3 separate regions of the Homo sapiens genome follow, and regions 1 and 3 are each linked to region 2. The links come from fine-mapping of genetic effects on gene expression. A gene starts in region 2. Each other region holds a variant in brackets. All regions are shown on one strand. Distances are between the middles of the regions.

What was found. PIP is the estimated chance that this variant, and not a neighbour inherited with it, causes the effect.
Region 1: its variant is fine-mapped to the expression of EIF1AX in coronary artery (GTEx, PIP 0.93).
Region 3: its variant is fine-mapped to the expression of EIF1AX in nasal epithelium (TOPMed, PIP above 0.99).

The regions. Positions count from the first base shown.
Region 1 is chrX:19,914,791-19,925,782 of GRCh38, forward strand. BCLAF3 (BCLAF1 and THRAP3 family member 3) reads right to left here. Exons shown (of 12, transcript NM_001367774.2): 12 at 1-2,544. The coding sequence ends at 2,515. LOC124905256 (a long non-coding RNA gene) reads right to left here. Exons shown (of 2, transcript XR_007068407.1): 2 at 8,995-10,117. Among named protein-coding and RNA genes, the nearest start is that of SH3KBP1, 33 kb to the left of the region's middle. The variant C/CA (reference allele first, on the strand shown) is at 4,600.
Region 2 is chrX:20,136,201-20,147,192 of GRCh38, forward strand. It overlaps EIF1AX (eukaryotic translation initiation factor 1A X-linked), which reads right to left and starts at 5,638. Exons shown (of 7, transcript NM_001412.4): 1 at 5,425-5,638; 2 at 2,339-2,422. The coding sequence starts at 5,440. It overlaps EIF1AX-AS1 (EIF1AX antisense RNA 1), which reads left to right and starts at 3,768. Exons shown (of 2, transcript NR_046592.2): 1 at 3,768-4,035; 2 at 4,135-4,244. It also overlaps SCARNA9L. RefSeq lists enhancers at 4,880-5,039, 5,370-5,639, 5,700-5,749.
Region 3 is chrX:20,112,423-20,123,414 of GRCh38, forward strand. It overlaps MAP7D2 (MAP7 domain containing 2), which reads right to left and starts at 4,485. Exons shown (of 17, transcript NM_001168465.2): 1 at 4,328-4,485. The coding sequence starts at 4,457. The variant G/A (reference allele first, on the strand shown) is at 5,913.

The DNA of each region.
Region 1 (10,992 bases), 220 kb before region 2:
AATTTTTAAAACCAGTAAAACCACCAACAGAATAGTGCCTTCTGAGGTTGGTGAAACCAATAGGAAAGAAACATGACGAGGGGATGCTGAATCAGAAATGTCAACTTTCCTCTCAACCTTTTGTATATATGTCCACTAAAGTACTTACTCTACATTGTGATTCTTTGTTTTTGTGAATCTCTTCTTCAGCAGTGCATGAGCTTCCTCACAGCAGGGACTGTGTCTTATTATCTTTGTCTTCCCAGTACCAGCGAAGGGCCTAGCACGTAGTGGAGGAAGGTGAGGAGGCAATGGTAGGGGACTTATCAAAAAAAAGAAAAAAAAAAAAAACTTCTCTTCTCAAGTCTTATGCATTCAAGAAGTCAAATTCTTTCCAGTCAATAAAAAATGCTATGGATAACCTTTTGTTCAATCTCCATATGAAAATTACACATGTAGTTCCTAATAAACATATTCTATTATTCCCTATTTATTCATTCATTATTCAACTAATATTTAATGAACTCTTACCACACGTCAAATAGGAAGCTGGGTGCTGGGGATACTATGGTGGACAAGACAGACACGGTCCCTGTCCTTATTTTATACTCTAAATTATAAAGTTGGTTTTTCCTTTTAGGCTTTAGATCTTATACACACAATGTTTTCTGCACAGGTATTTTGCAGATAACACGCTTTGCATATTGAGACAGTGCCAAAAGAATATCCAAATAGGGAATCAGTTGTGGAATGAATAATAGTAAATCAGCCATCTTACCTTTATGTGTTACAATAAATAAAAAGCGAGCTATAAAGGCGATTTACCAAGTTATATTTCTGTTTAATGTCCATTTTTCCTATTAGACTCTTCGTACCATAAAGGCAGGGTCCATGTGTCTTGTCTTCTTGTTCATTGCTGTAATTTTAGTACAGTATCTGTGCAATACATAGTTGTCAATCAAATGATTAAATATTCAAAGCTCATTACTGTCCCCTAGAATATGGGAGTAAATGAAATCAATTATTTTAAAATTTAAGACAGATTTTATAAGTACCTAACACAATATAAAGTTGCCATACTACCTGTGTGCATGCATTTCTTTCTTACCATAAGTGGAATGCTAAATATGTTTGGAAAACCTGACCTATAGAGATTGTACACAGTACAAGACAGGCCATCTACCCAAATTTATTACCTGCTTAGCAATGAATCAAGTGCACTTGCCCCCCTTATCATGAACTCACTTAAGGAAAAGGCTGCCCTCTCTTTTAAAGATATGGACAAGAAAACTGAATGTACTAAGATTTTTCACATCCAGTCATGAAAAACCAAGTTCTTATCAACCTTCACATTTTAATTTTGAAAGCTCTGTCTTTGTAAGCACAGAACAGTGCTTTAAACACTGTTTAAACAGAGGTGCTATCCAAGGCTATAAGTCTCAAACAAAATTAAAATAATGCTCTCACAAACTGGCAAGTAACTTATTTAAGCAGAAAGAGCAACAACATTTTATTTTATTACAAATAAACATTTCACAAAAATGTAATTGGGAATGTATATGTACTGTTAAGCAGAACACAGAAAACATAAAGAAATAAGGTATTGGGGCCTAAAAATTTCATTTAAAAATCCCATCCATTTGCTCTTACACATAGTAGGTATGCAATACATATCAACTGAACTAAAAGTAAACACTCTATAAGATGTGCTTGCAAAATGTGTAATGCTGTAGTAGTAAAGTACAATTTTCAAATATGAGATTTTGTTTGTCAGATTTTTAAAAAGCCTTTAAAAATATGATATGCACAAGCTTGCCCTGAGGGAAAAATAAGATGGACTATAGATTACAAAATCTTTACATATTTTCCACAATAGCATTTTGAAATTGGAAAAGAGCAAATAGTTGTGGAAAAAAACTGAATGAACATATTACTAAAAATTCAGTGCACTCACAACTACCTGATGGAATATTTGAAGCACCTTGTCTCTTGCCTTCTTATAATATGAAATGTATGAATTATATAGGCCTTGATCTTCAGAAACTTAAGAAAACTTCGAGTTATAAGCCAAAATGTCATCAGAAAAAGAAAAATCTGGTATAAAATTTTCTACCATAAGGCCACTGTTTAAAGTTCTTTCATGTAAAGACACTATACAATTCAGACACTTGTTTTTGTTTTTATTATGTAAGCAAAACTTTCAACATATAAACGTCTGAATATTACTTGGTGAAGTTCTCTCTATGAAACCATGCTCAGAGAAAAATGCATCAACAAATAATGCCCTTCAAGTGATTCTTTTGAGACTTTTTGCAAAGGAAACTGTAGTTAATACAACTTTTAAATTGAATACTGTAATTTAAAAGCAATTGTTAGGTGTAAAAAAGTTGCAGCATTCCACTACTAAAAAATAAAGTTATTTTATCAAGAAGTTACAGTATTAGTGCCTTAGTGTCACTTCTAACTCCTGACAAAAAGAGAGAGATGCTCCCAAACATCCTCCTGTAGCGTCATTTCCATTTGTACGATTTCAGATTAGATTCCTGTGGCAACATCTGTATATTCCTATTGAGAGAAAACAAGAGAAATAAAGACTTCAAACAAAGTGTCAAACATCTGAGCTAGTTTTGTTTACACTGCAATTTTCAAAGTATTTTCGTTTATACAGTGTTACTTGCACCCCGAGATTCCCACGAAGGCATGTGGAACCCCAAAGGCGCAAAGTAACAACAGAACACATCAAAGCAATATCGCATGATAAATCAATAGGACAAAGAAAACATGTGGTGCTAGATAACATTGATATTAGTAAATTGATGAAAACAGTCTTCTGCTATTTGGGTGAGTTTCAGTGAAGGCATCCCTGGCATAAAATCAAGACTCTTAAACCTTTGGCTCTCAAGTACGGAGCCTGACACTACACACGCACACCTCAAATTAGTATTTTATCTTTTCCACCCTATATCTCTAATTCTAAAACTACATGGGCTCTTTTAACTGACTGATAACTGCAGAGAAAGTTATTAGAGGGGGAAATGCCTTCTTACTTTTGGATGGTTGACTACAGTATAAAAAGGTGTAAGGCTTCAATAAATACAGGAAGAAGAATTTACAAGAACAATGAGACTATGATTAGAGAATAATGAACGTGGATTCTATACTGTGATACTATGCACAATATTCAATTACTAACCACAAACTGGACATAAGACCATGCAAGTAATAACGGAGCAAACATGGTAAAATGGCACATTTTTTAGGGACATTAAAAAATAAAAATTTATTAATATACATATCCTTACCTTTCACTAGGATCTTACACTATTAAAACTGAAAGAAATGTAAAAGTTGATTTATTTTTTGGCATTTATATTAGTATGGAAATGTTTAATTCCAAACAAAAACAGTGCTGATAGAAAATTCTTATTCTTCTATTTTGGTTAATGAAATCTTCAAAATACATGCACGTATATATTTGTCAACATCATTCCTTTAAATAGAGGTAGACTTCATTGTATCCTAGTTCTTTACTCATTATACAATATAAAAATCATATAAATTTATCTTCAAATAAAATGTTACCTACTTACAACTTTAAAAGGAAATTCTAACTACAATAATTCTAAAATAAGATTCAGTTGAAGTATCTTGTTAAATGTGTGATTATTTTGAGTTACATTCACCCTTGACATAGCTTCTTTCATAACCTATCTCCACTTGATCCCTCCACCCTTCCAATGATTTAAAAGCCCCCCCAACCCGGCCTTTTTTTTTTTTTTTTTTTTTTTTTTTTGAGATGGAGTCTCCGTTGCCCAGGCTGGAGTGCAGTGGTGCGATCTTGGCTCACTGCAACCTCTGCCTCCTGGGTTCAAGCAATTCTCCTGCCTCAGCCTTCTGAGTAGCTGGGACTACAGGCACATGCTACCACGCTCAGCTGATTTTTGTATTTTTTGTAGAGACAAGGTTTTACCATGTTGCCCAGGCTGGTCTTGAATCCTGGCCTCAAGTGATCCACCCACCACAGCCTCCCAAAATGCTGGGATTACAGGTGTGAGCCACTGCACCTGGCCATAAAAGCCCATTTTAAGCAGAATGCTGAACTAGATATATGAGCACTTCTTATCTAGGTTTTCATAACATGTCATCTGGGTCACCACACGTTCCCTTGTTGGTCTTCCTGCACCTCATTTCTTCTCCCCAGAACCTCCCCACCCACTGCTAACTACATAGCCATCCTAAAGTACCACTTTCTCCTCAGTCTAGGAAGATGTTCTAGTGCCACCACATCAAACCCTAAATATCCTCCTGCCCAGCTTTTGGGGCCATCTATAATTTGCACACCTCCATTTCTCCCCAACCTCACATCCTCCTGCCAAACATGGGTCTTTGGCTTTAGCCCTTTCTATGTCTTGCTCTTCTCCAGGCCTCAGCTTATAATCTACCTCCTGTAAGAAGAGTGTATCAATGGAAGTACTTAGCATGTATCTCCTGACCATTCCTACCATATTGATTTTCTCTTCCCTTTAGGCATTAACCATCTGTGAAGTTAAGCTCTTAAAAAATATGATTGTTTGCAACCAGCCTGGCCAACATGGTGAAACCCCGCCTCTACTAAAAATA[C/CA]AAAAAAATTAGCTGAGCGTCATAGTGGGTGTCTGTAATCCCAGCTACTTGGGAGGCTGAGGCAGGAGAATCACTTGAACCTGGGAGGCGGAGGTTGCAGTGAGCTGAGATCGTGCCATTGCACTCCAGCCTGGGCAATAACAGTGAAACTCCATTCAAAAACAAAACAAAAATATGGTTGCGTTGGCCAGGTGTGGTGGCTCACACCTGTAATCCCAGCACTTTGGGAGGCTGAGGTGGGCGGATCACTTGAGGCCAGGAGTTTGAGACCAGCCCGGACAACATGGTGAAACCGTATTTCTACCAAAAATACAAAAATTAGCTGGGTGTAGTGGTGCATACCTGTAATCCCAGCTACTCAGGAGGCTAAGACAGGAGAATCGCTTGAGCCTGGGAGGCGGAGGTTGCAGTGAGCTGAGATGGCGCCACTGCACTCCAGCCTGGATGACAGAGTGAGACTTCGTCTCAAAAAAAAAAAAAAAAAAAAAAAGGTTGTACAGAAAAGGGTTAACACAGCAGATCTGACTGCTGTCCTTGGAAAGGCCTGCTTACAAAATGGCCCTTGGCCAGCATCTGGGAACTTAGATTTCAAGAGGGTCCCCACCATTAACTGATGGGTGCTGAAACTGTTTGTGTAAATAAGATGGTTTACGCTGAGCACTCCCTTTCCTCCTGGCAGTCTGGAATTTGGGTATGTGCTTGGCAGGGGACGCCTACATGATCAGCCCCCAGTAGAAACTCTTGGTACTGAGACTCTAGCAAACTTCCCAGGGTGGTAATGTATCGCATGTGTTGTCACAACTCATTGATGAGGAAATTAAGTATGTTCTGTGAGACTCCACTGGGAGAGAACCCTTGGAAACTTGCACCTGGTTTCCTCTGGACTTCGCCCTATATGCCTTTTCCTTTTGCTGATTTTGCTCTCTATTCTTTTATGAGAAAGACTATATGCTAAGTCGTCTGAGTCCTAGCAAAACCTGGGGATGGTCTTAGGGACCCCTGACACAATGGCTTTTGTTCACTAACATTTTAGAGCATATGGATGGATGTGTGTGTGTGTGTGCATGAATAAATTCAACTCCATTCAATAAGCATTTTCTGAAGACTGACTATATGAAAGGTAATAAGGTAAGATAAAAGACTAACGAGGCCAGGTGCAGTGGCTCACACCTGTAGTCCCAGCACTTTGGGAGGCCGAGGTGGGTGGATCGCTTGAGCCCAGGAGTTCGAGACCAGCCTGGCCAACATGGCGAGACCCCGTACCTACAAGAAAATACAAAAATTAGCCGGATGTGGTGGCACACATCTGTAGTCCCAGCTACTTGGGAGGCTGAGGTGGGAGGATCACTTAAGCCCGGGAGGTGGAGGCTGCAGTGAGCTGTGATCACACCATTGCATTCCAGCCTGGGCGACAGAGTGAGACCCTGTCTAAAAAAAAAAAAAAAAAATGCTTAGCGAGGCACCCTCAAGAATTTGATAATCTATTTGGGGAAATACAAAGGCAAATGACAATAATTAGAGACTAAATGAAACACAAGTTATAGTGGGGGCTTTGATATGATTTACAGTGGGTCCTAAAAGGAAAGTAGGGTTTAATAAGAAAAGAATGGGGCTCAGGAGGCTATTTCTAGCTAAGAGAACAGTAGGAACAAAGGTACAAATACATGAAAATACAGTATGCTCCAAAAAGCAGAGAGTCTATGGGGAAATGCAGCTAGTAAGATAGCTTAGGGTTAGACCTGGCTAACAAGTTTGGTCTCTTTTCTTGTAGGCAATAAAATACTTGGAAGGTGTTTGTGCAAGAGGGGTATGATATGATCTGTGTTTCAGGACAATGACTGTGATCAAAGAGACTAAATTAGAATATCACAAGAAGCAATGAAACAAGCGAGAAGACTCCAAAGCTTCCAAAAACAGATCAGGGATACATAAGAATGCAGAATATAGTAAAAGCAGCATTTTCAATTAGCAGGGAAAGGACAAATTTTCAATAAACAGTGTTAAAAAACTATTTATTGGGGAAAAAAGTTAGATCCTGACTTTACACTATATCATAAAAATAAAATAAATTCTAGAGGCCAAGGCAGGCAGATCACTTGATGTCAGGAGTTCAAGACCAGCCTGGCCAACATGGTGAAACCCTGTCTCCACCAAAAATACAAAAATTAGCCAGGAGGGTGGCGCATGCCTGTAGTCCCAGCTACTCGGGAGGCTGAGATAGGAGGATCGCTTGAACTCGGGAGGCGGAGGCTGCAGTGAGCTGAGGTCATGCCACTGCACTCCAGCCTGGACGCCAGAGTGAGACTCCACCTCAAAAAAATAAAAAATTGGCCAGGCGTGGTAGCTCATGCCTAATAAATCCCAGAACTTTGGGAGGTCAAGACAGGCAGATCACCTGAGGTCAGGAGTTCGAGACCAGCCTGGCCAACATGGTGAAATCCCACCTCTACTAAAAACAAAAAAATTAGCTGGGCATGGTAGTGGGTGCCTGTAATCCCAGCTACTCAGGAGGCTGAAGCAGGAGAATCACTTGAATCTGGGAGGTGGAGGTTGCAGTGAGCCGAGATCATGCCATTACACTCCAGCCTGGGCAACAGAGCAAAACTCCGTCTCAGAATAAATAAATAAATAATAAAAATAATAAAATGAATAATAAAATAAATTCTAAATGGATTAAATATTAATATGTTTAAAAGTTAACCATAGGCCGGGAATGGTGGCTCACACCTGTAATCCTAGCCCTTTGGAGGCTGAGGTGGGCGAATCACCTGAGGTCAGGAGTTCGAGACCTGGACAAAATCAAGCTATCAGTGATAGAACATTCAAAATACTTTTTGATAATAGATTAGTACATGATTTGTTTGGCCTAAAATTCAGAGTGAGTCCAGAGAACTGAGTGGCATTCCTATAAATAGAAGTCCCTTCATTCCCATCTATGTAATCATATAAATAGGGTTTCTCAGCACTTATATCTATAAAAAGAAAAAAAATAGAATACTTGAATACTATATTATTCTACTAGCAACAGTATATATGAATACATAAACTAATTAAAAAAATGCATTTGCAGTAAGACTTCTTTTGTTTCATCAATACTTCAACTGTAATATTAACTCAATCCAGAGGAAATATTTAACACTTAATAGTCACAGAAATCTAATAACATTATGCACCAAATAGATTTGGTGATCAACAAAATACTTTTAAAGATAAAATTCTATGGAGGGGCCAGGTGCAGTGGCTCATGCCTGTAATCCCAGCACTTTGGGAGGCTGAGGTGGGCAGATCACTTGAGGTCAGGGGTTCAAGACCAGCCTGGCCAACATGGTGAAACCCCATCTCTACCAAAAAATATAAAAACTTAGCCGGGCATTGTGGCATGCGCCTGTTGTACCAGCTACTTGGGAGGCTGAAGCAGGAGAATTGCTTGAACCCAGGAGGTGGAGGTTGCAGTAAGCCGAGATCGCGCCACTGCACTCCAGCCTGGGTGACAGAGACTCCATCTCAAAAAAAAAAAATTATATGGAGAAAGTGGAATGAAGTCCAAATTCAAGGCAAAAAAAGGAACAATGCAAAATTTCTCACTGTTAAAAGAATTTGTGTATTAAAAAAAATTGATGGTATTAGTTATCGAGTTCCTGTGGTATGTAGGTTCCTCCAAAGAGATTTAAAAATATAATGCAACAGTTTTAAGACTGTCAGTGTTTATAATATGCCAGAAATTGTATCCTATACAATAATTTACGATAAAAATATTAGATAACCTACCAATGTGCAAGAAGGTAGATAACTTTTCAAAACTTTACAGTATGGAGCAAAAAGGTTGAAGACCACTGAAATAATTCATATATCCACAGAGTGGAATAATATGCAGCCATTAAAATGGATGAAACAAATGTAGTAATGAATGAGTGATGGAAATGAGAAGACTTGAAACCATTAAAGTTGGAAAGAGAACTGGGAGAATTAGTAGGACACGTTTCCAGCTTGGCTTGTCTAGCTTTGAGAGCTAGGGGACCTGAGGGAAAACAAGTGGTTGGGGGAGGACAGCAAGTCTGACATAATTTTTAACAGCTTTACTGAGATGTAATCCATAGACTATACAGTTCACCCATTTCAAGTGTATAATTCAGTAGCTTTTTAGTATATTCACAGAGTTGTGCAACCATCAATCACCACAATCAGCTTTAGAATATTTTTCTTCCCCTAAAAAGAAATCCCATACCCATTAGCAATAACCCATACCTGCTCTCAATTTTCCCCTCATCCCCGAGTCACTGGCAACCACTAATTTACTTTATGTCCCTACAGATTTGCCCATTTTGGACGTTTCATATAAACTGAATCATACAATATGTGGTCTTTTGTGTCTGGCTTCTGTCACTTAGCATCATATTTTTAAGGGTCTTTCATGCTGTAGCATGTTTCAATGCAAGTTTGATTATTTATTTATTTATTTTTTTTTTTTTTGAGACAGAATCTCACTCTGTCACCCAGGCTGGAGTCCTGTGATGTGATCTCGTCTCACTGCTACCTCCACCTCCTGGGTTCAAGCAAATCTCATGCCTCAGCCTCCTGAGAAGCTGGGATTGTAGAGATAGGGTTTCACCATGTTGGCCAGGCTGGTCTCGAACTCCTGAGCTCAGGTGATCCGCCTGCCTCGGCCTCCCAAAGCGCTGGGATTACAGGCGTGAGCCACCGCACCCAGCTGCAAGTTTGATTTTAAACATGCTAAATTTGAGGTGCTTTTAGGACATCCATGTGAGGGCATCTGGGAGGCAGCTGACAATCTGGAGGTCTGGAGAGTAGTCAGGGTTGAAGACATCAACAGAGGTGATGGCTGAAATCTTGGGAGGAGGTAAGGGCAATCAAGACAAGAAGGAGGACTGAAAAAAGAGAATAATATCACATCACACTAGGAAATGCTTACATTTTAAAAGAATGCATGGAGGAAGAGAAAACCAAATAAGACAGAGAAGGCAGAGAGGTAGGTAGTGAAACTGGAGCCTCCAGATCCTAAGTGCTTGAAAGTGATGATGCCCTTATGCAACACTTCCTTTGCACCCTGGCACACTTCAGCTCAAGGGACCTGGCAAGTGTATACTAGATTTCTGTTGATTCAGCTAATCTTGGTTCCTGTTCTATTTTCGTACTCCATGACTTTCAAGGTTTCTTTCAACCCCCAAAACCACGAATCCCAGTCTCTAACTTCCTTTCTGCACTGTCATTATGCCCTCTTCTCTCTTCCTTTCCTATCCCTGGACAGAGCTCTGGTAAGCACCACAGCACCTGAGGACTGCTGGAGAATGCTCCTCAGATCTCCGCTGCCTTGGAATTCCTTGCCTTCCTGGCCAAATGCGCAATTACTTACAGTTTTTCAGAGGCAATGTTCCCAGAGGTGACTTCATTAATTCTTACTAGCTTCTTTGTTCCAATCTAGTATATAATCAGACTCTCAGGAGTTTCTGAAAACTTTCTATGGTGAGCAGAGGATGCTTCCTGGGGGTACTTCTGAATGCTAGTGGATTAAAGACAAGCCTTATTCCAGGTAGTAACAGACATTCCTCCCACCCCTTTATCTTCCAGCCCAAGCACAGAATCCAAGAGAAAATAAACACAGTAAAAGGGACTTAGGGTGCCACAATGGAATATGACAAGTACATGATGAATGAGGAAGAATTTCCGTTCTGTACTTTTCTACTACTGCTTGGGAATCTGACTACTTTGTAGGCAGCTGGAGAGCCAATGCAGTTTTAGGGAAGCCACTATCATTCTGGTAAGTGGAAGCAGAGGATGTATTAGGAGCACATCTAGGATCCCCACCACCGCCACCACTCCCCAAAGCTGTTTTTTGTTGGAGGCAGGAAGTGCATGGCATAGGATAGCATAATCACCAGACTGTACTACAGATGAGGAAATGCAAGACCTCCCAGCCATGAGTGATCACTCCAGCATTTCAATATGGCAGGGGAGTGAGGAGTCCAGATAAGATCTGTCTAAATATTCTTGGTGGACTTTAAGGCATATGGGAATAAATAGGTTCATATTCAATTTCAGGCTCAAGAAGGTTCCAGGGCATTTAGATTAATGATGCATCCTTAATGAGTCTAGGTGGTGGTCTAATAACTGCCAAAAGAACGAATTCTCCAGGAGGGCAAAAAGCCAAAGCAGTGCAGGGATGCTGTTCAGACTAAGATTTCTCTCTAAGGAAGAACCTTCAAAGTTCCCTCTGATGCTAAAGCTTGGGATGAAGAGTCATATAAATGGTACCTCACCCAGGAACCCTACTTGAGCAAAAATGTCCCTCATTTAAGGGAAACGGAAAGCAACACTGGAAGAAACCAGAGTCTCCAGGCCTTCACTCTTTTTTTGAAGGCACGAAGGCCTGAGATA
Region 2 (10,992 bases):
CAACTGCTACCTTTATAAACACGTGTGCGTGCACACACACACACACCCCCCACACACACACCAGACATATGCCCTTATTGTTTTACATTGTTTTATAGTTCTGCTTCTCAGAACTGTAGAGATCATGCATCAGGTAGACCGGAAAGCCTTCTGATGCTCAGATTTGGCTAGTTTCATCATTGATCCACTTCAGTAAAAGCAGATCTCAGAGAATGTAATGCCATTTCTATAATATACTGTCTCTGCTATTAGACATGTTTAAATTATCGACTCATTCTGAATAAGTAGATTGACTACCCCACTTTTGGCTCTCCTTTACCTCAGTACCTTTAGGTGCAAATCTCATAATTTTTAGTTCATTTAGCAAACAAAAACAAACTTCAAACAATGTCTTTGTTGAATTAGAATATGACTAATCCCCAGAGAGGATGTCCATTAATTTGTAAATATACTGAGACTTCATTTTGAAAGGCTCAACAGTGGGGATGACTTGTGGAAGTCAATTACTCAGACTACAGTGAGTTTAGCACCCATCTACCACCTCAACATGGTTGGTCAACTCAAAGGCAGCCTTTCTTCTGAAGTGAGGGAAAAAGTAATAATAAAACAGTGTATGCCCAAGTCAAGTCAGCTGCTATTTTAGAGGCAAGGATGACCAAGGCTAAGAAACCAAAGGACTTTTAGCCAGAAAACGTATCTCATGTTTACTGGTTTATATGTATGGCGTAATAAATCCACCCAAAGTTCTATTAAAAGCTAAAGTACTGGAAATAATTGGAATACCTGAGGAAATATGGAGTATATACTAGATATTATATCAATGTCAAATTACCTGAGTGTGATAATTCTCTTCTAGTTATATAAGAAAATATACTTGCACTTAGAAGATACATGATCAAGTAAGGGAAAAGTAACATGATGTCTCTAAATTTCAAATGGTCCTGAAGAAATCCTACATATGGGGCTAGGTGCGGTGGCTCACGCCTGTAATCCCAGCACTTTCGGAGGCCGAGACGGGTGGATCACGAGGTTAGGAGATCGAGACCCATCCTGGCTAACACAGTGAAACCCCGTCTCTACTAAAAATACAAAAAAAATACCCAGGCATGGTGGCGGGTGCCTGTAGTCCCAGCTACTTGGGAGGCTGAGGCAGGAGAATGGCGTGAACCCGGGAGGTGGAGCTTGTAGTGAGCCGAGATCGCGCCACTGCACTCCAGCCTGGGCGACAGAGCGAGACTCCATCTCAAAAAAAAAATTAAAAAATCCCACATATATATTTCTTTATATGTGTGTGTACAGATGAAGGATTTAAGGGAGTTTGTTGCACTAATACTGCAACTTTCTGTAGGTTTGAAATGACTCGAAATAAAAGTAACAGGAAAGGGCAAACGATCCAGTTAGGATTTATTTGACTAGTGCTATGTATCTTGGTCTGGCACTTACAATATTCTTCAGTCTAATAAAATCAGTTAACTGTTCAGTTTCATTTTATTGTAGTTTACGAAGTTATATGCTAATGGCACTGGAGAATGGAGAGGTCTATAAGGGCCTCAGGCTCATCCTTCAAATGTCCATGGTCTACTCAACATATTATATGTACCATTCACTACCAGAAATGCTAATCATAGAACTGCCAACTAAATCACAGAACTGTCAACCATAGCTCAATTCCCTCTGAACTATACGACACATTCTTAGTTCCCAGTACTTTGGGAGGTCATGGTGGGAGAATCACTTGAGCCCAGGAGTTCGAGAATAGCCAGGGCAACATATGAAGACCTCATCTCTATACAGTTTTTTTTTTTTTTTTTTTTTTTTTTTTGAGACAGAGTCTCCCTCTGTCACCCAGGCTGGAGTGCAGTGGTGTGATCTCGGCTCACTGCAACCTCCGCCTCCCAGGTTCAAACAATTCTCCTGCCTCAGCCTCCTGAGTAGCTGGGATTACAGGCACGTGCCACCACACCCAGCTAATTTTTGTAATTTTAGTAGAGACGGGGTTTCATCATGTTGGTCAGGCTGGTCTCGAACTCCTGACCTCGTGATCCGCCCGCCTTGGCCTCCCAAAGTGCTGGGATTACAGACGTGAGCCACTGCGCCCAGCCTAAAAAAATTTTTAAAATTAGCCAGACGTGGTGGTGTGTGCCTGTAGTCCCAAATACTCGGGAGGCTGAAGTGGAAGGACTGCTTCAGCCCAGGAGGTCATGGCTGCAGTGGGCTGTAATCGTGCCACCACACTTCACCCTGGGCGATGGGCAAGACGCTGTCTCAAAAAAATAAAGTCCCCAGCTAAAAAAGAAAGGATGTTATTTTAAAAAGCGTAATTTATGAAAACACTTACCCTGACCATCCTCTTTGAATACCAGTTCTCTTTTTTCAGATTCATTCTCATTCTTACCCCTGCGTCTGTTTTTACCTCCTTTACCTGATGGTTTAAAAAAAAGAAAAGGAGGTAAATGACATTAATTATCTGTAAAACAGTATGAAATAAAATGAAATTAAGGCTTATAAAACCATTTTTTAAAAGATCACTTAAATTAAAAAATTCATCTATTTTAGCTACACAATCATATTAAATTTACAATCTCCAATCCCAACATTAACACATTATCACCTCCCTACCCTTCTTGGAATTTCCTTTGGGGATTTTTCTGACATAAAATACACATAAATAGCAGATATTATGTTAAAAAATATAGAAAAACATTTCACTTTAGCACCCATCCTTTTGAAATAAAAATGCAATTCTATACATATTCTTCTAAGCGGAAATCTTGGGTGTCTTCTAAAGCCAGGCCCTATGCAAGGAACCCGATACTTTCAAAATTAAGTGAAGACAGTGTCTGGACAGAGAACTGTGGTTTTCAAACTTTTGGTAGCAGAGTACCATAAATATTGAAATCTCACTGGGTGCAGTGGTGTGCGCCTAGGGTCTCAGCTACTCAGGAGGCTCAGGTGGGAGGATCACTTGAGCAAGCCCAGGAGGTTCCAGGCTAGCCTGGGCAACATAGCGAGACACTGTCTCTTAAAAAATAAAGAAGATCTGTTCGGTACCCAATTTACTTTCTTTTATAATGCTGGTCCCTACTCAACATCCCTGTTTCTATTATATGACCCCAGTGACCATGCTCTTAACCACTATGCAATAATTCTGCCCATTTACTTGTCACAATCACCCCATGAGGTCATAACATTCATTTATTCCCAGTTTACCCATGAGTTCCCTGAAGCTCAGAGAAGTTAAGTAAGTCGCTTAGCTTCAGTGAGTAAATCAGTTCACTGATTACAGTCAGTAAGCTGGGGTGACCAAAGTCACAATGTTTTTTTTGCCCCTAGCCCCCACATAAGCTTACCTCTCCACAGCATTTTGCTCCCATTCCAGAAAGGAAACCACATTGGCAGCCATTTCCAAAAGGCAGGAAAAAGGCTGTAAGTGGTAATGACCCTAAGAGACTCATGGGAAGAGCTTGGAAGCAGCAAAAAAAAATGGAGGACACTTAAATTAGGTCATGAAAAGTACCATTCCTCTAAGTAAGATAACTAAGAACTGATTGGTTTCAGACAGTACAGGAATGATAAACACCAAACTCAGCCTGGTGATTACCTCCAAAAAGAGAGTAAAAGGTGATTAGGGCTTTACCTCAATCTGCGCTGTAATTCTTAAATTCAGAGTAATGGGTTCCCAGGTATATCATGTTAGCTGTATTTTTTGTATGCCTCAAATGTTATTTAAGAAAAGACTAATTACTTGTCAATTTACCAGAATTAACCATACCCGGATCACTCCCCTTTGTATTTTATTGCCATGTAATGGGATGTTCTTTAAATTCTCTGTTGAATGAATGAGACTAGGTCTGAGTGTACAACAATTAAAGTGACATCAACATTCTTTAAACCAGAGTTGTTTTGGAGAAATTCCCAGAGAGGCTCTTTCTTAAGACATGAGGCTAGGGAACTAGATGTGATTTAGTGTAGAAGTCCTATCCCCTTGGAACCAAAGCAGAACCTATTATTCACTAAGGGTGGAGTCGACAGGAGGTAGGTGACTTAAACCAACAAATATTTATTAAGCATCTACTAATTGTCAAGTGCTGGCAATCCAATGAGATTAAGACAGATACTATTCCTGCCTTGTAGAGCTTACAGCCTGGTGGAAGAATTGGAAATCTTATTACTAGAAATAAAGGTGAGAATAAGATGGAAGTGATCCCCTTACCACCTCAGAGAGAATAAAGGATTATACAGAAGAAAACTGTAAGACTTTAAAATTTTTTGTTTATAACTCCATCTTTTCCAAAATAATGAGCAGTGACTGCACCAACTTGTGCACAGAACACCTCGACCAAGTACCCTAAGGGATAAAGTAATAAGTGACAGCTACAAAGAGGAAATGTGGTAGAATCCCTGGAGCCAGCTGTCAAGTAGAAAAGAGAGCAGAAGTAGGCCTGTGTCAGGGGAGGGTTTCCTCTAGAATGAATAATCAAAGGAGACTACTTACGGACTATGAAGTATGCTCCTCTCCTGTAGGAAAATACAGTATTTTCCCTATATTTACTTGCACAATTTTCTTCAAGTTATACGGCTATTAAAAATGACAGGAACACTGTAAATCTATAAAAGTAATTTCTTTAGGAGTGTTCTGTTTTTTGTTTTTGTTTTTTTTTTTTTAAGATTAGGCCTTCCGTTTTGGAAATCCCAAATAAAGTTATCCTCAAGTCTGATCATTTGTGAACGCTTAGCCTCAGAATGGAGGACACTTAAATTAGGTCTTTATTCTCACAACATATGCATCATCTGAAGCAAAAGTAGAAAACTTGGCTCAATATGGAATAAGTCTTCAGCAAACAAACATAAGCTATATCCTGTAAAGGGATGGAGAGAGTAAATCTCTAGAGGTGAGCCTTAGAAATGTATCAAGGTTTCACCCACTGTTCACAAGGGACAGCGAGTAGCCTCAACAATACTGAACTGTCCATAAAGAAACCCATGCAGGAGTACCTGGTGCTCACGAATGCAGACAGCACTCTGAAAGTTCAGAACGGCTTCCAGGGATTATAACCCCTCATGCCCGGGAAGGCCAAAGGGGCCTATCTACTAAACCTAGGCCGCCCCGGGGAAGGTTCCCGCCACCGTCCCCACCGAGCAGCGGTCAGTCTGGCGCGAATCAGGAGCAAAAGCCCACATTCTCCCGCAGGAGGCCCTACAAAAATGGCGCCGGCTCCACCCCAATGTGACCAAACTGGGCAACAGGAGTTAACTTCCCAGCTCCTCTCCCGAGCTCAGAGTCGCGTGTGGGGCGCCCAGCCGCGGGCAGGCAGGGCGGGAAGGAAAAAGGGTCACTGCGGCCTGGGTGACCTGCAATCTACGGGCAGGACCTGGGAGACCCGGCCGAGCAGAGCCGTGGTCCGGGGGTCCGGGCGGCATTACCTTTATTCTTGGGCATGGCGGTGGCGGCGACCTCGCGGCGTCTCTGACTTCTTTCCGGGTAGCGGCGACCGCGGCGGCTGCTGCTCCGAGGGGCGACACGAGGGAGCGCGCGGGACCAAGTAGGTGCTGGAGGCCAGGCAACGTGCGCGGGAGAGGCTGGCGACCCAGCTCTTCAGAGATCCGCCTGCGTCCACGCTCGGCGGCAGCAAATGGCGCCGCGACTCTTTGCGTCGCTTTTCCCCGCCTCCCGTCGCCGGCTGGGCCCGCCCCCAGGCTTTATGACGCAGGCGTGGCCGACTGACTCCTATTGTTAGAGCCGAGGGAGACGCGTTGTGGGAGGGTGCGCAGCAAGCCAGAGAGGACGCGAGGGGCAGGGCCTCAAGCAGGGAAAAGGCGGAGTCAGGGAGGGAGGGGGAGAGACTCTGCGTCATAGAAAAGGGCGGGTTGAGGTGGCGCTTGCTGCTGGTTAAGACCAGACCTCTGCTGCTTTGTAGCAAACGCGCGTCTCCCGGTTTCACAAGTGGCTGACTCGTTAACCTCGTGGTTAGCTCAGTTTTTAAAAAATATGTATATTTTTATTTTTATTTTATTTTTTGAGACGGAGTCTTGCTCTAGAGTCGCCCAGGCTGGAGTGCAGTGGCGCGATCTCGGCTCACTGCAACCTCTGCCGCCCGGGTTCAAGCGATTCTCCTGCCTCGGCCTCCGGAGTAGCCGGGATTACAGGCACGTGCCGCCACGCCCGTCTAATTTTTGTGTTTTTAGTAGAGACGGGGTTTCAGCATCTTGGCTAGGCTGGTCTTGAACTCCTGACCACGTGATCCATCCGTCTCGGCCTCCCAAAGTGCTGGGATTACAGGCGTGAGCCACCGCGCCCGGCCAATATTTTAATTTTTTTATTAAGATGGAGTCTTGCTCTATCGCCCAGGCTGGAGTGCAGTGGCGCGATCACGGCTCACTACAACCTCCGCCTCCCGGGCTCAAGCGATTCTCCTGCCTCAGCCTCCCGAGTAGCTGGGATTACAGGCATGTGCCACCATGCCCAGGTAATTTTAGTACTTTTAGTTGAGACGGGGTTTCACCATGTTGGCCAGGCTGGTCTCGAACTCGTGACCTCAACTCGCGCCCACCTCGGCCTCCCAAAGTGCTGGGATTACAGGCGTCAGCCACCGTGCCCAGCCGGTTAGCTCATAACGCAGTCCTTTCACTCGCCCAGCCGGGTTGGGAGCCTGATGGGAAGGGCAAGGCTTTCCTGGCATCCATTACCAAAGCATAATATTTGCATGGCACTTGTTATTACTCTTTAAGTCTGTCTGTCCTACCTCACTGTAAACCTTACCGGGCAGAGACCATGTTTGTTGCTTACCATTACCCCCACTTAGCTGAATGTCTGGCACATAATAGGTGTTCAATACACACAGAAAGGAAGGGAGGGAGGGGAGAAAAGACTTAAGCTCAATGTTAATGGGCTGAATTGTGTCCCCCCCAAAATTCGTATGTTCACGTTCTAATCCCCAGTAACTCAATGTGACTGTATTTGGACATAAGTTCTTCAAAGACGTGATTAAATTGAAATGAGGTCATTAGTGTGGACCCTTATCTGACTGGTGTCCTTACAAGAAGATATTATTAGGCCACAGGCATAGAGGGAGAACACCACGTGAACAAGAAGGTAGCCATCTATAAGCCCAGGAGAGAGGCCAACCCTGTTGACGCTTGATTTTAGACTTTCAGTCTCCAGAACAATGAGAAAATAAATTTCTGTTGTTTAAGCCACTCAGTACGTGGTACTTTGTTATGACAGTCCTAGCAAACTAATACAGCTGGCTAATGCTGGGCTGTACTCTACAAGATTTATTTCTAAGTAAACTTATTTTGACTAAACCAAGTAAACTTATTTTAAATAAATCACCTTTCCACAAACACCAGGGTTTGCACATACTTAGAAGACAGAAATAAAGTATCATCATCTAATATAGTGGTTCTTTTCTGTGAACATTTGGCAGCGTCAACCAGAAATGTTTCTGGTTGTCATAACTTGAGGAGGGGGGCAGTGATGCTGGCATCTAGTGGGCAGAGGCCAGGGATGCGGCTAAACATCCTACAGTGCACAGTACAATCTCCCCTCCCCCATACAAGCAAACAATTATCCAGCCCAAAACATCAGCAGAGCTGATATTGAGAAACCCAATGACAGATGCACTTCTTAGAGTGAAATTGAAAGATAATGGGGGACTCAAAGTTCTGGGTTTCTCTTTCTATCTGCAATATTTTTCAATTTACATAATTGAGGATGAAAGGATTTTTTATGAAATTTATTTAAATTTTGCTCCAAGGTCAAATAATTATGAACTTGAGCTTTGGAGTTAGAGAGGCCTGGGTTCAAATTCAAGCTCTGCAGTAACTTATTACTCTATTTTCTTGGGCAAGTTTTAATCTCTTTACAAGCTTCCGTTTTCTCATCTGTAAATTGGATGTAGGAATAGTACTAACCGGCCAGGCGCAGTGGCTCACACCTATAATCCCAGCACTTTGGGAGGCCGAAGTGGGCGAATCACCTGAGGTCAGGAGTTCGAGACCAGCCTGGCCAAAATGGTGAAACCCCATCTCTACTCAAAAATTCAAAAATTAGCCGGGTATGGTGGCAGGCGCCTATAGTCCCAGCCACTTGGGAGACTGAGGCAGGAGAATCACTTGAACCCAGGAGGCGGAGGTTGCAGTGAGCCAAGATCGCGCCACTGCACTCCAGCCTGGGCAACAAGAGTGAAACTCCATCTCCAACAAACAAACGAACAAAAAAAAAGAAAAAAAAAAGAATAGTACTTACATTAGGTTGTTGCAGGAATTAAATTGATATAATGCATTCAATTAGCAATTGTGCCTAGTACATGGTAAGTAGTTAGACTCTAAGAGTCCGGAACTCTAAATGTTTAAAAATAAAAAGTTTCTGTCAATTACCCAGTATAAAACCTCAAAGAGGAAAAAAAAATATCAGGCTTCATTTCTCTACTGTAGGATGGTTCCCCCATCTGACTGATCATCTTAATCACTTGGAAGGAAGTGAGTCAGGTGGACATCTGGGGGAAATGTGTTCTAGGCAGAGAGAACAGCAAGGGCAAAGGCCCTGAGTGGAAGCATGCTTGGTATATTCAGGAAACAGCAAGAAGCCAGGTGCAGTGGCTTCCACCTGTAATCCCAGTGACTCAGGAGGCTGAGATGGGAAGATCGAGCTTGAGGCCAGTAGTTCGAGACCAGCCCAGGCAACATAGCGAGACCCACCCCCCCATCTCTAAAATAATAAACACACGACAGTAAAAAAAGCCAGGCATGGTAGTTCACATCTGTAGTCCCAGCTACTTGGGAGGCTGAGGCAGGAGGATCCTTAGAGCCCAGGAGTTTGAGGATGCAATGAGCTATGATCGTGCCACTGCATTTCAGCCTGGGCAACAGAGTGAGACCCCATGAAAGAAAGAAGGAAAGGAGGAAGGAGGGAAGGACATAAATGAAGGAAAGGAAAGAAGGAAGGAAGGAAGAAAAGAAAGGTCAGTGTGGCTAGAATGCATTGAGCCAAGGGAAGAATTTGAAGAGATGAGATTGGAGAAGTAAGGAGGCCAGATCACTTGAATCTTCAGTAGGTTTTTTTTTTTTTTTTTTTTTTTTTTTTTGAGACAGAGTCTCGCTCTGTTGCCCAGGCTGGAGTGCAGTGGCGCGATCTTGGCTCACTGCAACCTCCGCCCCCTAGGTTCAAGTGATTCACCTGCCTCAGCCTCCCTTAGTAGCTGGGACTACAGGTGTGCGCTACCGTGCCTGGCTAATTTTTGTATTTTTAGTAGAGACGGGGTTTCGCCATGTTGGCCAGGCTGTTCTCGAACTGCTGACCTCAAGTGATCCACCCGCTTTGGCCTCCCAAAGGGCTGGGATTACAGGCATGAGCCACTGCGCCCGGCCTTTCAGTAGGTTTTTAAATAGATCATTTTGGTTTCTGTGTTAAGAACAGACTGTAGGGGGCAAGGGTGGAAATGGAAACCACACGGGAGGCTACTGTAACAGTCCGAACGAAAGACAGTTGTGGCTTGGACTAGGGTATAAAGTTTCTTTTTAGGATGGTGAGAATGTTCTAAAATTACATTATAATAATGGTTGCACAACTCTGTAAGTACTATACTAAAAGACATTAAATTGCTGGGTGCGGTGGCTCACACCTGTAATCCCAGCACTCTGGGAGGCCGAGGCGGGTGGATCACAAGGTCAGGAGTTCGAGACCAGCCTGGCCAATATGGTGAAACCCCGTCTCTACTAAAAAATACAAAAATTAGCCGTACGTGGTGGTGTGCACCTGTAGTCCCAGCTACTTGGGAGGCTGAGGAGGGAGAATCACTGGAACCCATGAGCTGAGATCGTGCCACTGCATTCCAGGCTGGGCAAGAGTGAGACACTGTCTCAAAAAAAATAAAAACAAAACAAAACAGTAAATTGTACACTTTTTTTTTTGAGACAGAGTTTCATTCTTGTCTCCTAGGCTAGAGTGCAATGGCGTAATCTCAGCTCACTGCAACCTCTGCCTCCCAGATTCAAGTGATTCTCCTGCGTCAGCCTCATGAGTAGGTGGGATTATAGGCTCCTGCCACCATGCCCGGCTAATTTTTGTATTTTTAGTAGAGACGGGGTTTCGCCATGTTGGCCGGGCTGGTCTTGAACTCCTGACCTCAGGTGATCCACCTGCCTCGGCCTCCCAAAGTGCTGGGATTACAGGCATGAGCCACCATGCCCGGCCTAGATTGTACACTTTAAATGGTGAACTGTATGGCGTGTAAACTATATCTCAATAAAACTATTAAAGAAATAGGAGACGGATCAAATGACAAATGGTACTGAGGGTTTAGCTGAGGTTAGAAAATATAAATTTGCAGTGGTATCAGTTTGCATAATTATATGGTTTTCGAAACCACCATTGCAAAATTGTAACTGAGACAATGAGATCTGACCTAACCAACTCCAACTCCATCTTGTTTCTTTTTTTTTTTTTTTGAGACGGAGTCTCACTCTGTCGCCCAGGCTGGAGCGCAGTGGTGAGATCTCGGCTCACTGCAAGCTCCGCCTCCCGGGTTCACGCCATTCTCCTGCCTCAGCCTCCTGAGTAGCTGGGACTACAGGTGCCCGCCACCATGCCCGGCTAATTTTTTGTATTTTTAGTGGAGACGAGGTTTCACCATGTTAGCCAGGATGGTCTATGATTTCCTGACCTCGTGATCCGCCCACCTCGGCCTCCCAAAGTGCTGGGATTACAGGCGTGAGCCACCGTGCCTGGCCAACTCCATCTTGTTTCTAACCTCCAAGCTGTCCTTGTTCATTCCTGGGTGTAGGCTGGACTAACTTTAGGAGAAATTTAGTTTACAGTTTAAAACAAAAATGATAACAGCCCTTTCCCAAAATGAATCCCCTTCTTGCCTGGGGACTAGACTGCCTTTGTGGGACTAACAAATTAGCCAAAAGATTAGAAATTATGGTTTAGGAGTCATGCAGCTGGAGGCTACAAGATTCTGACTCTCTCCAAATTGCTCCTGGGGATAA
Region 3 (10,992 bases), 24 kb before region 2:
GGCAAGAGGAAAACAAATGCTTCCCAACAGAAAAGCAGATGGGGGCTTGCATTCAGACTGACCTCAGAGGCAGACGAGGCGGGATCCCAAGGCCTAGTCAGACCCAGAGCCTCAGATGCCAAGACGGTAAACTCCATATTTAAATGCGGCCGACTCAGATGTGAGGTGGACAGTGGACACTCCCTCCCTAAGGGCGGCTGCCCTCTACTACCCCCTCTTCCTTCTTCTGGTGAAATTCCTTTCAAAAGGGACCGGAGGGCAGGGCCATGGGAAGTTTTCAAATCTTGGAACTGCCGCCTGAGCCAACTTAGCACATGAACAGCCCCCTAAAACCAGGCAGTATCATTGTATCACCAGCCAATATATCTCATCAAATCCTCTCAACAAGACCCACCAGGATATTTACCAACAGCCCCCAGAAATCTCCATCTCTCGCCTGCCCAAATCAACCTTGTGAATCCTTCTGTTTTGTAAGGCAATCAATGTAATTACAAGAAGACAAAGTGTTCTTTTAAAACACTAGCCACTGCAGAAGATGGGGCACCTGAGAGGAAAACATCCTTTCATGTTGGAGAGGAAGCAGGTTAGAAATGACAGACTTTGAGCAGCTATGTCACCATGGCTAGGATATGAGAAGAGAAATCACAAAGACTTTCAGCAGTTTGTCCTGAAGGTCCTGCTAAGTCTAAGTCCTATGCTGCCATCAGTAAAAAAAGCCAGGAGCCACAAACCAAATACAACTTTGTAGGAAGTTTGTGGTCCTTCCTACTACCAAAGAGACTCTAGAGGCACAAACTCAACTTGTTCTCTTGTTCTTCTTGATCTGAACACTTTTTTTTTTAAGATCGGAGTCTCACTCTGTCGCCCGGGGTGGAGTGCAGTGGCTCAATCTCTGCTCACTGCAACCTCCGCCTCCCGGGTTCAAGCAATTCCCTGCCTCAGCCTCCCGAGTAGCTGGGATTACAGGTGCCTGCCACCATACCTGGCTAATTTTTGTATTTTTAGTAGAGACAGGGTTTCACCATCTTGGCCGGCCTGGTCTTGAACTCCTGACCTCGTGATCCGCCCGCCTCGGCCTCCCAAAGTGCTGGGATTACAGGCGTGAGCCACCACGCCCAGCGATCTGAACAGTTTTAGGATTAAAGCGTTCAAGAATGGTTTTAAACACAACTTTGAAAAAGGATGAAGAACTCCGATTTCTTGGGGACCCAATGCCTTTGCTACTCGGGCCCACTCTACTTTTTTTTTTATTTTACAATTTTTAATTTTTGTGGCTACATAGTAGGTAGTAGGTGCATATATTTCTGGGGTACATGAGATGTTTTGGTACAGGCATGCAATATGAAATAATCATATCATGCAAAACAGGTTAGCCATCCCCCTCAAGCATTTATCCTTTGTGTTACAAACAATCCAGTCATACTAGTAGTTATTTTTAAATGAACAATTAAATTATTATTGACTATAATTACCCTGTTGTGCTATCAAATACCAGGCCTTATTAATTCATTCTATTTTTTTATACCCATTAACCATTCCTACCTCCTTCCCACCCCCCAGTACCCTTCGCAGTCTCCAATAACCACCTACTCTCTATCTCCAGGCCCCACCCTATTTTGTTTTTCTTTCGAGACGGAGTCTCGCTCTGTCACCCAGGCTGGAGTACAGTGGCGCGAGGTCAGCTCACTGCAACCTCCGCTTCCTGGGTTCAAGCGATCCTATGCCTCAGCCTCCCAAGTAGCTACGATTACAAGCATGCGCCACCAGGCCCGGCTAATGTTCGTATTTTTAGTAGAGATAGGGTTTCACCATGTTAGCCAGACTGGTCTCAAACTCCTGACCTCAAGTGATCCACCTGCCTCGGCCTCCCAAAGTGCTGGGATCCTGGGCATGGTGGCGCAGAAGTTGCAGTGAGCTAAGATTGTGCCACTGCACTCCAGCATGGACAACAGAGTGAGACTTCATCTAAAAAGAAAGAAAGGAAATATGGTTGAGATCTGGTGATTCTATCTGCTGGTTAAAGGTTGTTAAGCAGATTGAAACAAGCACTTGCTCATTTGTTATACTATGTGTATCAGACAAGCACTAAAATGGACAGTAGATCTGGTAATTTCTATTCAGAGGTAATTAAAAGGAAAGAAAGAAGGCATCACTAGGGGGTAATGGGAACATGCACAGGATTTCAATATCGGAAGAACCTGTTGCTAGAGGAAACCACCAGCGGTATTTCCTTTCCGTCTTTTACACAGCTCCCAGGAAAACCACTTGCCAACTCATATCCCCTAAGTGTGCAACACAAAATTGTTGGACAGCCTAAACATCTCAGGTCTTTCTGTATTTTGCAGCCTTGACAGCACCCAGCCCAAGCTTAGGAACAATGGTTGACTCTCTAGAAAAGCAGGTTAAGTCTCATTAGGAATGGGTCCCAAATGCTAAGGGCCTGGGTAACCAAGAATGATCAGTATCCAGGACAGATAATTATAAAACCTCAAAATCATAATTTTTCTAAGGAGACTTTACTTAAGTACCTGGCCTTGCTAACTCCCCCAAACAACAAATGGTGGTATCACCTGGCACCTAAATTAAACATTCCAATTTTACCATACCAACCTTAATGCACATAGGTGCTTATTTCACATTTTAAACCTTCACACATATTTTTCTATATTTCCAATTTCAAATGAAGGAAGATATCCTTAAGCTAATCTTAATATCAGAAGAGTGCATTAAATGATTCTACAATAGTTTCCAAACAGAACTTATTAAGAATCTCCCCCGCAAAAGTACCTCCTCCCCTTCCCCAATTTTGTTTCCATTAAAAAAAAAAAAAAAAAAACCCCTTAAGTTCCTTCAAATAAAATCCAAGATACACTGAAAACCCAATCATACCGCCCCTCCCCACCTCTCATGAGTACAACAGAACATCGAAACAAACTATTATTTAAGCTCTCAACCAAATAAAAATGCAAACTGAAACAACCTCTCCTTTTCAGTGTTTTATTATACAAGGTCGCCTCTGCCACGGAGGGTCGTTCTGGTGGGTAGTTTCCAGGTTCTTCCCTAGCAGATGCAGCTTGAGTGTTTCAAGCAAAAAGGATAAAAACAAAAGCACACATTTCAAAGGTAGTTATAACGTTATCCTGTGACAGTTAATGAATTCTGCCTTTAAAATAGCATAATGAAAAATACAAACTGGAAATGATTTAAGCTATCTCCTCCTCCTAAGAATGATGCAACTGAAGGCCCAGTCAGAAAATACTACCTCGCCCCCTCAACCCCAGTGAAAAAGCGTGTTTTAAGAAGATTTCTCTTGATTTCTTTCCTTTTCTTGGCCCATCGTATATAAAATACTCCCATCTTCACTATGTGATAATTCATCGAATTATAGTTTTGTGTGGTTTTTTAAATGCATATTAGACTGCAATAAAAAATGTTTTAAAAATAGCCTGCCTTATTAACTAAAAATAAAAAAGTTGTTGTCAGGAAAAACAGCATGAAATCGGTTTCCATGCTGCTTACACCCCCGCACTACCTGCAACCACTTTACAGAACGTTAGCATCAGACCTGCTTATCTAAAATCCTGCCAAATGTCCTCACAGTCTCCTCCGCTGCCTCGCTGGCTTCTGGGCAGCCAGGGACCAGCCCTCCATGGCTCCCAGCATCGGCAGCCTCGAGGGCTGAGAGCCTTGTTTGCCCCGCTGCCTCGATTGAGGGCCGCGGCCCGGCCACCTGAGCAGCGTTCCCAAGACAGGGAGCGCATCCGGGCGGGAGGAGCACCCGGTCCGGGGCAGACGCCTGGCCGCCCGGGCGAATCTGCCTCTGCCAATGGGTGACACGCCGATTTTGCCCCCTGGAAACGCCAAGAGGCGCGAAGCTGGGCCACCTTCGCCGCGGGCTGCAGCGGCGCTCGCGCGCGTTTCCCAGAACGCAGAGAGAGCGCGCGCGGAGGCCGGGGCAACCCCAGAACCCCGCTCGGTTTATCCTAACGACCCCCATGCCGGCTGCTCCTCGAGGACGGGGACTGGACCCGCAGCACCCCCTCAGGCACCTCCATCCCAAACACACCTGCCGCCCACCCTAAGCCACCCCCCATGTGTACCCACTCACCCAGGTCGCCCCAAGAAAGAACCCCGCCACTCGCACAGAGAGGGGTGCGGCCCTTGGATGCACGTCCGGACGATCCTGGGCCAGGGAAAGGGCGTTTATCTCAGCTCTGCGCCGTGCCCCTTCCCCCCACGCTCGAGGACCTTTGCCCTGGGCCGCCGGGCCCGCCCCCCCACAGGAACCCGAAGCCCTCGGGCGCCCGCCACACTCTGGGGATAATACCTTGAGGCCGGTAGTTGGGCTGAGAGGTCCGCACCGCGCCCGGTTCTGCGATCTTCCCTGGGAGAGAGGTTCCCCGCGCAGTCCCCTCAGGCCGGGATCCCGTCCCGGAGCCGCCGCCGCCGCGCTCCATCGGGATGCGCCGGCCGCACAGGCGCACTGCCAAGCCCGCCGCGCCGCACCGAACCCGCGCGCGTCCGCATGCGCACGCGTCCTCACGCAGCACGCGCGCAGGGCGTGCACGTGCGATAAGCGCACCGGTTACCACGCACAGCGCACGCAAGGCGTGCACGTGCGATAGGCGCACCGCTTCCACGCACAGCGCACGCAGGGCGTGCACGTGCGATAGGCGCACCGGTTCTCACGCGGCGCGCGCTTGTAGCGTGTGCATGCAATGTGCACAACAGTCCTCACACAGCGCGTACGGGCGTGCACGCGTCCTTACACGCTGCTGTACACAGTGCACACACAGAAGGCGTGCGTACGCACACAGTTCTTCATACGATGCTTACATGCAACATGCACACACAACGTGCACACCCAGCGTAAATGCATCTTCTCACAGTAGCAGATACACACTCAAAGCGTGTGTAGATGTAGGGTGCAGTTTCTCAGACACCGTGCACACACATCCTCACTCAATGTGTGAACACAGAGCACATAACGCGCACACACGTGCTCACTCAGCACGCACACGCTTACACTCACTGGGTGTCTGCATGCAAACTCAGCAATGCAGCCTTGGGAACAATTTCTGGCTAGGCCCCCAGGTGGGTGCCAGTTGGGCCAGTGACATCTGTGCAGACGCCAGAGGACCCGCCCTCCATGCATAGTTAGGTTCCAGTTTTCGAGGCGCACGGGTAATCAGTGTTTAGTGACGCCCCACCCTCAGCGTGCGGTCACCCAGAGAGGGACAGCAGCAAGCTATTGGGGTCGATCTTCAACTAAGAGGCAGCGGCACGCGCCGTAGGCCGACCTAGGCCTTTCAACGACACCCTACTCCGCAGCCAATTTGGTTCCTCTTCTCCTGAGGCGTAAATAATGCTGACTGAAACCTCCGCGATGCCGGGTGTGGTGGCTCCCGCCTGTAATCCCAACACTTCGGGAGGCTGACGCGGGCGGATTGATTGAGCTAAGGAGTTCGAGACCCCCGTCTCTACAAAAAAATTTTAAAAATTAGCTGGGCATGGCGACTCATCTGTGGTCCCAGCTACTTGGGAGGCTGAGGCGGGAAGATCGCTTGAGCCCGGGAGGTCGAGACTGCAGTGATCACGCCACTGCACTCCAGCCTGGGCGACAGAGACCTTGTCTCAAAAGCAAAATAAAACAAAAAACCTCTGAGGAGGATCTCTCCGAGAAGACACACAAGAAACTGCTAAACGGGTTGCCTCCTAAGTAGGCACTTTTACCACTGCCATGCACATTTATTATCTTTTCAAAAACATTGAAAAAGACATCTTGGCAGGGCCGGCTCAAGCCTTTTGTTTACCCAGGCCTGCCAAGTGATAACCCGTTCCCATGGAGCCCCAGGCTGCATGTTTTTTCTCGTTGGAAGGTGACCAGCCTGAAAGTTTTATTACCACTCCTG[G/A]GGGGAGATATACACGATTAAAAATGAAGCTGAATAATGGGTACAGGTTTTCTTTTTTGGATGAAAATATTCTAGGATTATGATGAGTGCACAACTAAGTATACTAAAAACTATTGAATTGTACATTTTAAGCGGGTGAATTTTATGGTCCCTTAATTATGTCTCATTTTTTTTTTTTTAATGTGAAGCTGAAACTCTCAGGAATGGGCACCTGTACTCTTGGCCAAAGCTGGGAAAGTCCCTTTGTGGCACAAAAAATGTTTGTGATGAACGTGTTCCTGACACGCCCAAAGGTGTGCCGGGAGTAGGGTTCAAGTGTGGTGAGAAAGCCAGGAAGTTTAAACATAAATGAGTAGGAAAGTGAGCAGGTGGGGGCTGGTACCCTGAGCTGTAATGAAAACTCGAACACATTGAGATTAAGCCAAATTAAGAGCGTGGGAGCTGTCACTTTCTCCTCCCTTATCTTAGGGACCTTTGGTGAGTTCAATTCATCCAACTCTTGAGCTCATGGACATGTGTGTGTAGCATCCCTCTCTACTTTTATTCTATTTTTGGGGTCCTTTTACTTTCCATTCCTCTCCCTAATTATAAACACCTCCTCTGATATCTTTGCAGCTGCAATTTTGAAATACTGTTTTGAAGATACGCATGTATTTTAATTGTATATAAATGACACTGCATAAAAGCTATCATTCTATTTGTTTTTCCTCTCTTGGCATTGTTCTCAATCTACACAAAATGATTAGCCATTCTATCTGGTTTACCCTTCTGTAAATTCCCTGTTCAATCCTTGCCCACCTTTCCACTGGGCTACTCTGGTTGATTTCCAGGAGTTTCTTGTATTCTAGATAATTTCTGGTTTAAATGTTGCAAATATTTTATCCTAGCCAACTAAGCTTTTTAAGATTGGTAAAATTTTCCTTAATTTTTATGACAAAATCCTATTAACATGTTTACTCCATTTACAATATTGCCCTATTTTTTATCAACTGTTTTTGAAAGTTACATTACAAATACTTCCATGTGTATTTCCTAAGATTATGAATGTTCTGTTACACATACTAGAGTTGACTACCAACTTAAGTTTCACATGGATACAGTAATTTTCTCTCCATTGGCTGTTCCTCCACCTTAGAGGTAGTTTTCCTCTTGCAAAATGCACTGTGGTGAGGCACCTTAAGGCTATGCAGGTACTTACTCTTCGTCAAAAATTCTCTCTAGATTTAGCATCCATTGATGGTTCTTGCTTGATCTGATCTCATAATGATTACGAAGTGATAAAATCCATAAATTTTTCACCTTATGGTTTGCATTTTAAGAAGTCTTAATACGAACTTCCCTAGTCCCAAGATACTCCCCATTGCCCTCATGCTTATAGTAAAAAACGTAAAAAAAAAAAAAAAAAAAAAAAAAAGTAAAAAATGCTTTACTCTTAAGCAATTTTTCTGTATAGGGTGAGGTAAAGAGCCAAATCCACTTTTCTCTCCGAAGTGTAGTTTGGTCAGCACTACCTGCTTACCTATCCTTTCCCCAGTAATTTTTGAAGCCACTTTTTAAAAAATCAAGTACCTAATTTCCATAGTAGGTGAGATAGCTTCTGAGCTATCTATTCTGATCTTCCTGTTACTGCATCTATTATTCACTACTATGGCTTAGGGTGCAATTTATTTGTTGAATTCCCTCTTAGCAGTGTTTCTAGAATTCTTTGAAATTCAGTATTTCCACATGAATATATTTTAGGATGTTTTTGCAATCTCCCACCAAGGCCTGCTGTAATACTAAATGTAATTATATTGAAGTCAGAGGTTAATTTGGAGAAAATTGACATTTTCGACATTATGACAGAATATCCAATAGTGTAATTTCTATTTAAGCTTTTAAAAAAAATGACTTTCGAGTTTTCCGTGCTTTTCCCACTACACTAACTTCCTATAAAAATCTATAGCATGGCCGGGCGCAGTGGCTCACCCCTGTAGTCCCAGCACTTTGAGAGGCTGAGGCGGCCAGATCACCTGTGGTCGGGAGTTGAGACCAGCCTGACCAATATGGGGAAACCCCATCTCTACTAAAGATACAAAATTAGCCGGGTGTGCTGGCGCATGCCTGTAATCACAGCTACTCAGGAGGCTGAGGCAGGAGAATCACTTGAACCCAGGAGGCCGAGGTTGCGGTGAGCCAAGATCGCGCCATTGCACCCCAGCCTGGGCAACAAGAGCAAAACCCTGTCTCAAAAAAGAGGTTTTTGGCCGGGCATAGTGTCTTACACCTGTAATATCAGCACTTTGGGAAGCCAAGGTGGGAGAAGCACTTGCATCCAGGTGTTAGAGACCAGCCTGGACAAAACTGTGGGACCCCCATCTCTAAAAAATAAAAACAAAACATTCGGGCTTGGTGGTGCACCTGTAGTCCCCACTACTTGGGAGGCTGAGGTAGGAGGATCACTTGAGCCAGGGAGGTTGATGCTGTAGTGAGCTGTGATATGGCGTCACTGCACTCACCCTGGGCAACAGAGCAAGATCCTGTCTCTAAATAAATAAATAAATGAATGAATAAATAAATGGCTGAGTGCAGTAGCTTACATCTGTAATCCCAACACTTTGGGAGGTGGAGGCGAGTAGATCACTTGAGGTCAGGAGTTCCAGACCGGCCTAGCCAACATGGTGAAACCATACTAAAAATATAAAAATTGGCCAGGTGTGGTGGCGCATGCCTGTAATCCCAGCTACTTGGGAAGCTGAGACATGAGAATCGCTTGAACCCGGGAGGCAGAGGTCAGTGAGCTGAGATTGCACTATTGCACTCCAGCCTGGGCAACGGAGACTCCATCTCAAAAAAAAAGTTAGTGTCTCTGACAATGCAATAAAAATTTATTAACCTGAAGAGATTAATCTCATACACTGGTACATCCTAACCTTTGAGTACACATCTTTTCAATATTTCATGTGACAAAGTGGGGAATACTACACAAACCTCTTCTGCATACCAATGTACAGCAGTTGTCTCAAGGAAAAGCATTTGTGATAATTTGTATTCCAAACAACTGGACACTTTCATGAAATATCATTTTTACTTGAAAGAAAAGCTGATAAGCTGGTAATTCAAACTTGGATTTGTGTTCAACATTTTTGCAAAAACGAATAAAATTAGCCTGACACTTCAAGGGAAACAAGTGACCATATTTGTTGGTGGTGATAAAATTTGGGCTTTCCAGCATGAAAAAAGTTTTACAAAACTAGTATCTGCTACCATTAGCTTGACAACTTCACTAAAGTAAGAACTTTTCTGAAGAGACAGTGACATTAATGAAATGTGGCATCTTAATACTGTAGAATGAAAAGGGTCAACATATGGAAGATCATACCTCTGTCAGTTTTTTCCAAGTTTTCCAGGTGTGTGAAGTTACAAAGTCCATTCATAGTTCAAAATAGACCAATGAATTATAATGTAACAGTATGAAACGTTTGTTGATTTGGTGTTAGATTCCACAGTGCAACTTAAGAAATCACCTCTTGTCAAGATTGTGTGTAGTATCAAAGAACATACAAGTATCTGAAAAGACTATTAAAATCTTCCTTTTCCAACTACATACCTCTGAGGCCAGATTTTCTTCATATGCTTTAACCAAAACTTACTAGGACACATTGAATACAAAAGCAGATATGAGACTGTCTTCTATCAAGCTGGTCAAGATTTGCAAAAATGTGCAACAATGCCATCTCAAATTTTTGTTTCTGTTACTCCTTATTGTTTATGCTAGGCCGGGCGCGGTGGCTCATGCCTGTAGTCCCAGCACTTTGGGAGGCTGAGGCGGGCGGATCATGAGTTCAAGAGATCGAGACCATCCTGGCCAACATGGTGAAGCCCCGTCTCTACTAAAAATACAAAAATTAGCTAGGTGTGGTGGCGTGCATCTATAGTCCCAGCTACTTGGGAGGCTGAGGCAGGAGAATCACTTGAACCCGGGAGGCAGAGGTTGCAGTGAGCTGAGATCGCACCACTGCACTCCAGCCTGGTGAAAGAGTGAGACTTCGTCTCAAAAAAAAAAAAAAAAAAAAAAAAAAAATTTATGCTAATGCATTGGGTTTATTCTTGAATTACCATTTTTACAAAATCTATTAATACAGTCAACATTGACAGACAACTCACAAGCAATGTTGCCATTTCAAGGAAAATTGACAGTATTTATTGCCAGTGCTACATTTATACTTTCAAGTAAAAATTAGTTTTAGAAATTTGATCTACCAACATTAGCCAGATAAAAGAGCTCTGTGATTCTTCATTTTTAAGTATAAAGTAGGAGTTGGCAAACCCCTTTCTACAAAGGACCAGATAGTAAATACCTTGGGTCTTTGCAGGCCATCTGATCTGTTAGAACAACTCAGTTCTGCCACCGTAGTGCAAAAATAGCCGCCACAGACAACACACACAAATGAGTGTGGCTATATTCCAATAAAACCTATTAACAGAAATAGGTAGTGGGACGTACTTGACCTATCTACTGTAGTTTGTTGCCCCTTGATATAAAGGGCTTGAGACCAGATAATTTGAGACCTGCACAACAACTAAGTGGTATAGTAGATTTTAAGGTACTATTCACCCATACTAGAGCTTTTTTTTTTTTCTTTTTTAGACGGAGTTTCGCTCTTGTTGTCCCGGCTGGAGTGCAATGGTGCAATCTCGGCTCACTGCAACCTCCGCCTCCCAAGTACAAGCTCTTTTCCTGTCTCAGCCTCCCAAGCAGCTCAGATTACAGGCATGTGCCACCACGCCTGGCTAATTTTTTTGTATTTAGTAGCAACGGGGTTTCACCATGTTAGTCAGGCTGACCTTGAACTCCTGACCTCAGGTGATCCACCTGCCACCTGCCTTGGCCTCCCAAAGTGCTGGGATTACAGGAGTGTGCCACCACGCCTGTCCAATGTTTTTTTTTTTTTTTTTTTTTTTGAGACAGAGTCTCGCTCTGTTGCCCAGGCTAGAGTGCACTGGCACGACGTCAACTCACTGCAACCTCCACCTCCCAGGTTCAAGTGATCTCCTGCCTCAGTCTCCCAAATAGCTGGAATTACAGGCACCCGCCACC